Linked DNA regions of Homo sapiens: region 2 is reported to be linked to region 1. The links are microRNA targets in miRTarBase. Many come from high-throughput screens and were not tested one by one. Region 1 holds a microRNA gene; the other region holds the end of a gene's coding sequence.

Evidence for each region. The annotated mature microRNA hsa-miR-3169 reads UAGGACUGUGCUUGGCACAUAG and lies in region 1 at 2,652-2,673, opposite strand. An mRNA with a match to its seed (bases 2 to 7 or 8) in the 3' UTR can be bound and repressed. Matches are read on the target gene's strand: a 7mer-m8 pairs with bases 2 to 8, a 7mer-A1 pairs with bases 2 to 7 and ends in A, and an 8mer does both.
Region 2: the mRNA of RPL22 is a reported target of hsa-miR-3169. Seed matches in the 3' UTR shown: 8mer at 2,179-2,186.

What each region holds. Positions count from the first base shown.
Region 1 is chr13:61,197,197-61,201,600 of GRCh38, forward strand. It overlaps MIR3169 (microRNA 3169), which reads right to left and starts at 2,684; the gene lies at 2,602-2,684.
Region 2 is chr1:6,183,292-6,187,695 of GRCh38, reverse strand. It overlaps RPL22 (ribosomal protein L22), which reads left to right. Exons shown (of 4, transcript NM_000983.4): 4 at 880-2,676. The coding sequence ends at 1,024. Among named protein-coding and RNA genes, the nearest start is that of CHD5, 5.2 kb to the right of the region's middle.

The DNA of each region.
Region 1 (4,404 bases):
ATATATATCTCCTGAATTTCCATTGTTTCTAGGAGATCTTGAAAAGTGGAGTAGCAGGTCTGACGAGTGGTAACTTGCCATTCAGAATTATTTTATAAAACTTATCAGCAAAAGTACTAAATGTTATATTATTGTATTGCATTGTTCTAGAAACATACAAGTATCTGTTCAAAATTGAATTGGTTAGAAAACAAAACCAGTGTGTGTTAAAAGATCATTTAAAAATGCATGACTAAATTATCAATCCTCCATCAACCGACTTTATAAAAGAAAAAGCACATAAGTTATTTGAGCCATGGATTTTATCTGCACTATGTGAATGGTTTATATGAGGAATTTCCAACTCTTTTCTCTGGCCACATATAATTTTTTCCTTGCTTTATTTGATTCTTTTTATTTTTTATTATCCAAACTCTGGATTTATAAGTCTTTTTCCTTTAATATAAAACTCTCTTGTTCAAAAAAGTACTTTTAATTTTAAAATAAATATTTGCTAAATTTCCAGACTCTTTTTGATACTAAATGAAGTAAATATCTTAAAATATATAAAACTAAGGTCAATATATGACTAAGGTCAATGAAGGAAACACATTAGTAAAGTAGATACAAGTATATTAGTATTAAGACTGATGTAATCTATACTCACACAGCATATATTATGCATTATGAGGTTAATTTTATGCATTAAAAGGTTAATTTTTTAAAATGTTGTCTTTACTAGTCATGAGCACATGTATCACTGATGCCAATTTATGTCAACCTAAGGAAGGTCAATGGAAGAAGCACTGGATCCAAAGGCTAAACTGAATTATACTTTTGCTAGTAACTTTGGACGAATTATTTCTCACCCCATCTTCCAAATTAATGATCAAACAGTGTTAATAATACATATCCTTGTTATCGCTGCAATTTAATGGGACTCAAGTTAACAAATCTATGTGAATGAGTGTTGAAGAGTTGAAAGTGTAACTATTATTCACCTTGTTAAAAAAAAAACATGGGTTATAGAGCCAAATAAAACTAGCTTGGAATTTTCCTCATCTTCTTCATAGATCCAAATCCCTTGACAAGTTACTTAGCATCTCTGAACCTCAGTGCAATCAGCAAAGTTGAGGTAGTAATGCATAGCCTGGAGGTTGAATATAAAGTTACATTGAAACAAGACATCCCAAAATAACTAGTATACTGTCTGGCCCTTAAAAATTTACTGAATATATGATGATTTTCCTTTCTACTGTATCTTACATCATGAATTTATTTAACATAATTAGTGCTGGCAACCTTATGAAAGGAAAAGACAAATCACAGATTATATTTTCAATAGGTTTTTAAAAAATCAAAATATATAATAAACTCTACCAAAGCAATAAGCAAATTAAGAATAAACAATCCTGTAGAAAACAAGCAATTTAAGGAATCAGAAACTGAAATGGCCAATAAACACAGGGAATTATTTTCACAGTTTTCTCATCTGAACAGCTAATAAATAACACTGATATACCATTTCATATCCATAGTGGCAAACTTTTCCATTTGCATAATTACTTTTATTATAACTGAGGATAAACAGAAATTCTTATACATAATTTTTTATTGCCTAATAAAGTTGTATGTGTGTATCCCTGAATTCAGCAATTTCACCAGAAAGCATATATGTGAGAAACTCTAATAAATGGACCAAAAGAATTCCAAAACTGTACCAACCTATCTCAGTAGAAGAATGAATAAGCCTTGTTTTTATTATAAATTGAATATTAAAAAGCAATGAAAATTAATCAGATCTACATTTATCTTCATTTAAAACCTCAAAAACATAATGCTAAGTCTAAAAATTAAATCATAAAATTATATATACAGTAGTTTAAATTTACAAAGCAATTTCATATATATTAAATTATAATTTATTTTTAAAATGCAAAAGCATGATAGGAAAGATTTACACCAACCTGAGAATCATAGATCTTTCTGGGAAGACAGTCCAGGAAATAGCATGGGGTACATCTAAATTCTATCAATTATATTTTTATATATATACCAGGAAGAATGATTTCTTCTGCATCCTAGTGTGGGTATTGTCAATGTACATACCAATTCTTCTTAAGGCTGTTAAACCCACCATTCTCACTACCAAAATATTATTATTCATTTTGTTTTGAATAAGCTCAATAATCTATGTTGTGCTATTATTGTTATTATTGTTGTTGTTGTTTAATGAGCAAGCCAAGTTTATGAATATGTGAACAGTGAATAGATTCCATTTTGAGAGACATTGATTTATCACAATGAAATACAGACCAATTATAAGCTACAGTTTCTTCACGTGTGTTTTTAAAATATCTTATTTTACTCGAATAAAAATTCTTTTAGAAATTTAGTCGAATTTTTCTTGTGCCCTCTGATAAATTACCTCCTACTTAATGTTGTCTGTATTTTCAGTAAAAAGTTTACCAATATTTACGTGTATTTGCTAGGACATATCTGAGTTGAATTCCTCATTATGACTCTTACAGTTTATATGACCTAAAACAATTTCTGTTTCATCAGTTGTAAAATTGGTATGAAATATTACAAGGTTTTGTGAGGATTCATGTGGGATGACATATGTAAAAACACAGGACTATGCTTGGCACACAGTACCATAAGACTTTGTGCTATGTGCCAAGCACAGTCCTATGTTTTCACATATGTTAGTAGCATAAGTCACAGTACAAAGTATTATTAGCAACCTTATCAACACTGTCACTATTACCATCAGGCCATTCAAAGATTTAGAAATAATTAGGATTTTATCGTTGTTTGCTCTTTAAGTCAATACTTTGCATGGTTTTGAAAGTCCTCCTTAATTTCACCACACTTTCCCACATGTTAAGCTGATCTCTTTACGACATTGTATCTTAAATCAGCATGCTCTTACCAGACCTATGGCTTTTGATCTTTCATCAGCCTCACCTACAATGTCCTTTTCTTTCCATTTGTCTATTCTAATCCTTTCTATCTTCCAAAGCTTGCCTCAAATCTCATCTTGTCTACAGTTTCATTGAATTGATTTAAATCTTCTCAACCAATATTTATATTGTCTGTATCAGGTAATTTAGTGGTTAATTATGTTCTACCTTATATTCTTCACTGATGTTTTATATTCACATTGTCACCACAAAGTAAACTGTTTGAACCTATGGGCTGCATCTGTGATTTCTTTCATCACTCTGATAGAGCATTACAGAATCATGAGTGAGTAGCAGATATTTGATACATTTTGACTGTAATAAAAAATAACCCATTATATTTTTCCTAGCATCCAATTGTGTCTATCACTCATCAGTTCAAGGAAAGTCTCTCTGCCATAAATGGTGGTTTCCAATAAAATTTATTTCACTTAATTTAATTCATGTTGCACTCAGTTTATCTCTTGTCTAAGGTAAACTATCCAAGAAGAAAACCTTTAACAACTTTTCAATGTCATGATAAATACCTTTTGGATTTTTACAAAAAATTTTTACTAACATAATTAAGTGTGATCAAGTAGGATAACAGAATAAGAATGGTTATTCCTAAAGGTATGAAAAAGTGGGAGCATCAGCAAAATAGGGCTGCTATTTCTTATGGTTTTTTTTTTGGTTTAATTAGGCCCATTAATCTGAGAAATAACCTGAGACTATAAAAGAAATAAATAAAGAATCAAATACTTCTCCTAACAGGAGACCAAGTTAAAATAAGGTGCCTCAGTCACAGTAGAGCCCCAATTCTTAAAGGACAGTATCACTTCACACTGTAGAACTGAAATTATAATAAGCCACTGTGGGAATTAAACATCCTATAAGGCAATTTCATAAATATTATAACCAGATTATTCTGGTTAAAGCCTCCATCACTCATAGGATGATCATTTAGTTTAGAGCAAAACAAATGCATATCAGATTATAATTTATAACACTGCTTAAAATATGAAGTCTTATAGCTATTTTAAGTTTAAAACATGTTTTAATAATTACCCTTCTGAACTTCTAGGAGCTATCATATATTACTAAAACTTTTGCTCTGTTTGAGGTTTTAGAAAATTATAGCTAACTTATGAAAAATTAAAATATTCTTTTTATCAATGCTCAGTGATGGAATTTTAGGGATTGTTCTAAAAATATATTTAATTTGTAATAGATATATTTTTATACATTTCTCAATCTTCTTTATACATGCAAATATTTTTAGTCTTTTATAAGGTTCATCAGCAATTCCTCTAAAGCTTTGTCAGGAAGGTGATTCAGAATATCCCAGGCACTTTATTTCATTACAGTGTTGGAAACCAAATGATGAACTAACACAGACCCTGTATTCAAAAGAATAACTTTCCTGAAATGGCTTATAGAGTAGAGATAAATGATAAGCAAAACCTATTAAGGTGTTTCC
Region 2 (4,404 bases), not on the chromosome of region 1:
TTTGCTGCATTTTCATGGACAACTGGTACATCTACTTATCTACTTATCTGCTCTTGTTTTTTTTTTTTGTTTTTTTTTTTTTGAGATGGAGTCTTGCTCTGTCGCCCAGGCTGGAGTGCAATGGCGCCATCTCGGCTCACTGCAGCCTCTGCCTCCCGGGTTCAAGCGATTCTCTTACCTCAGCCTCCTGACTAGCTGGGACTACAGGCGCCCAGCACGACGTCTGGCTAATTTTTTGTATTTTTAGTAGAGATAGGGTTGCATCGTGTTAGCCAGGATGGTCTCCGTTTCCTGACCTCATGATCCGCCTGCCTCAGCCCTCCAAAATGCTGGGATTACAGGTGTGAGCCAGTGCCCCTGGCCTAGTTTTTTTTCTTTTTTCTTTTTTTGGAGGCAGTCTTGCTCTGTCACCCAGGCTGGAATACAGTGGTACAATCTTAGCTCACTACACCCTCCGCCTCCTGGATTCAAGGGATCCTCATGCCTCAGCCTCCCGAGTAGCTGGGATTACAGGCGTGCACCACCACGCCCAGCTAATTTTTTTATTTTTAGTAGAGATGGGGTTTCACCATGTTGTTCAGGCTGGTCTCGAACTCCTGACCTCAAGTGATCTGCCTGCCTTGGCCTCCCAAAGCGCTGGGATTACAGGCCTGAGCCACCATGCTGAGGCTATTCTAATTGTTACTGCCGATGTCGATGGTACGTGGCTGATAACTCAGAGCCTTGGCTGGGTGTATTTGCCTTACCTTTGCCATTTTTGAGGCTTGGGAAAACACCTTGAATTGTAATGATTTTGAGTGCTGGGTTTTATAAATGTTAAAATGTTTTAGAATGCAAGCACCAACTGTCTAGTGGAGTTCTTGTGTCCTTTCTCTGCAGGTATTTGAAATATCTCACCAAAAAATATTTGAAGAAGAATAATCTACGTGACTGGTTGCGCGTAGTTGCTAACAGCAAAGAGAGTTACGAATTACGTTACTTCCAGATTAACCAGGACGAAGAAGAGGAGGAAGACGAGGATTAAATTTCATTTATCTGGAAAATTTTGTATGAGTTCTTGAATAAAACTTGGGAACCAAAATGGTGGTTTATCCTTGTATCTCTGCAGTGTGGATTGAACAGAAAATTGGAAATCATAGTCAAAGGGCTTCCCTTGGTTCGCCACTCATTTATTTGTAACTTGACTTCTTTTTTTTTCTGCTTAAAAATTTCAATTCTCGTGGTAATACCAGAGTAGAAGGAGAGGGTGACTTTACCGAACTGACAGCCATTGGGGAGGCAGATGCGGGTGTGGAGGTGTGGGCTGAAGGTAGTGACTGTTTGATTTTAAAAAGTGTGACTGTCAGTTGTATCTGTTGCTTTTCTCAATGATTCAGGGATACAAATGGGCTTCTCTCATTCATTAAAAGAAAACGCGACATCTTTCTAAGATTCTCTGTGGGAAAATGACTGTCAATAAAATGCGGGTTTCTGGGCCATTCGTCTTACTTTCATTTTTTGATTACAAATTTCTCTTGACGCACACAATTATGTCTGCTAATCCTCTTCTTCCTAGAGAGAGAAACTGTGCTCCTTCAGTGTTGCTGCCATAAAGGGGTTTGGGGAATCGATTGTAAAAGTCCCAGGTTCTAAATTAACTAAATGTGTACAGAAATGAACGTGTAAGTAATGTTTCTACAGGTCTTTGCAACAAACTGTCACTTTCGTCTCCAGCAGAGGGAGCTGTAGGAATAGTGCTTCCAGATGTGGTCTCCCGTGTGGGGCCCAGCAATGGGGGCCCCTGATGCCAAGAGCTCTGGAGGTTCTTGAAAGAGGGGACACGAAGGAGGAGTGACTGGGAAGCCTCCCATGCCAAGGAGGTGGGAGGTGCCCTGGAAATAGCTGCCTCATGCCACTTAGGCCATGACTGGATTTAATGTCAGTGGTGTGCCACAGTGCAGAGGCTAGACAACTGAAAGGGGCTACCAAGGCTGGGAAAAAAATGCAATTGTTGCTGTGAGTGACTTTGAAAGACTCTGGTGCCTTGTGGTGCCCTTCTGAAATTCAAACAGTAATGCAAAAGTGTCTGCATTAGAATTTACGGTGTCTAAAATTCATGTTTTTAAAAGAGCTTGCCTACAGATGGTTTCCACACTTGAAATTGTGCCCTGCGAGTTGCATAGCTGGAAGTTCAATGCTCAGTCCTACCTTGGCTCCCATTAAACATTTGGTGCTCTGTGGATTGAGTTGAACGTGTTGAGGCTTTGCAATTTCACTTGTGTTAAAGGCTCTGGCATTTTTCCATTTCTATGCAAATTTCTTTGAAGCAGAATTGCTTGCATATTTCTTCTCTGCCGTCACAGAAAGCAGAGTTTCTTTCAAACTTCACTGAGGCATCAGTTGCTCTTTGGCAATGTCCCTTAACCATGATTATTAACTAAGTTTGTGGCTTGAGTTTACAAATTCTACTTGTTGCATTGATGTTCCCATGTAGTAAGTCATTTTTAGTTTGGTTGTGAAAAAACCCTGGGCTGAAGTTGGCATTTCAGTTAAAAGAAAAAAAGAAACTAGTCCCAGATTTGAAAACTTGTAATAAAATTGAAACTCACTGGTTTTCTATGTCTTTTTGAACTCTTGTAATCGAGTTTTGATCATATTTTCTATTAAAGTGGCTAACACCTGGCTACTCTTACTGTACGAGGCTTTGTTTTTTTTAAGGACTGGCATGTGAAGAAAAGCTTTGTCCTCACGAATTAGTTGCTGTACCAACAGTTACGTTGGTCTTTATTAGGCTTAGAAGAAAAGATGTCCTTTATTTCCACTTTTCTTCCCTTAGTTGTGCTGTTTTGCCGCAGTGAGATTCAGGGGTTGGCTGTCACTGAACTCTGTGTAGAATTTCTCCAGATCCAGAGTCTGGGGATCAACTTTGCCAGCAAATGCCGTTTTCTGATGGGGAATAGGTAGTGTCAACTTGAATTCCATCACAACCATGACACCAGCTGCGCCCAAAGCACACTGTAGACCAGTTTCCTTTGTTTTGACTCACACCTCACTTGCCTGATCGAAAATAGTTGAGGCACAGGGGCTGACTGGGGTCGTGGAGAGTTTCAAGCCGTGATTTAAGTTCATAAGAGTCCGGAAACAGGAGGTTGGTCTCGTCTCAGCCAATGCCAGTTACACAACACCTTCACGCCCTTCCCTCGAGTGTGCTGGTACAGCTGAGGAAATGAGGTTTGTTGATGTCACTAAGTGCTACGAACTAGTCACTTCTAAAGGCTTCATGTTTTCCCTCCAAAAAGCCTCTGATCCCCCTTTTCCCATGGCACTTCCAGTGGTGAAGTGTTTGGGTTTTGAGGACTGTTGTCCTCATACATTTTCAGGAGCAGCCAGGTGTTGAAATACGTGGGTCCTAACTTTGCTCATGAATGGTGTGTAGCACAGAGGTGGTCAGAAACACGGGGAAAGTGAGGAAGTTGGATAATACCAAGTGTCTTAAGACAGTTGATATCTGGGGCTATCTAGAGCTCAGCCTTTTTAGGGGACACTTGATTTCCTGGAGGGTGATAAGGACCCTGGTGATGGGGAATAATGGTCCGGCTGTTGAAGTCATTGATGTCAGGGGAGCCTGGAATTTGGTGTTGACACCTGATTTCACTTTCCATTTGTACATGGGACTCAGACCCTTAAACTTGTCAAGTATTGTAAACCAAGACCTCCCACAGGAGAGGGGGACCTAGGATGTGGGACAGTTACAGATCTGGCAGTTCCAGGGGACAGACCATCTCCCCAGTAACCCTTGGACAGAATACTGGGGTGACGAGTCAGAAGCTGCAGGGTAGGGGCACCACGGCGGTGAGAGATGGGCCAGGTCCCTGAAGGAGAGCCTGGGTTGGCACCTGCCCAGGTTGTTCGCTGAGTCGTGGTGATGGGCCTGTATTTAGTGGAATAAACTGTGGGGTTGATTCTCTTTGAGGGAGAAGAGGGTAGAAGAGAGGCTTGGTGTGGGGATTTGCCATCCCTGCAAGGAGGTAGCCCTCCACCTACAGGAAGGAGGTGAGGACTGCCTGTTAAACGGTGCAATCATAGTGCTTATCTCTAGGAACAGGAAACTGAATTTCTCATCCAGCCATTTTCTTGTCTTTGGGATGGATTTGAGAATACACATTCTTTTTTTTCCCCCAGGCTATTTTGGGCCCAGCTAAAACAGTCTGTAAAGGCTGTGCTGACCAGCGGAGTGAGTTAGCTGCCACCATAGCTAGAACCCAGAGAACACCCATAAAACGTTCTCAGGCTTACACAAGGATTTTCTCAGGTTCAGGGCCATGGCCCAGGGCTGCCTTTTTGAGAAGCTCCTTCCTCCCCTGCAACCCCAACTGATTTGAATTCAGGTGGTGCAGGGTCCACACTTTCGGAAAAAGCCTTCAA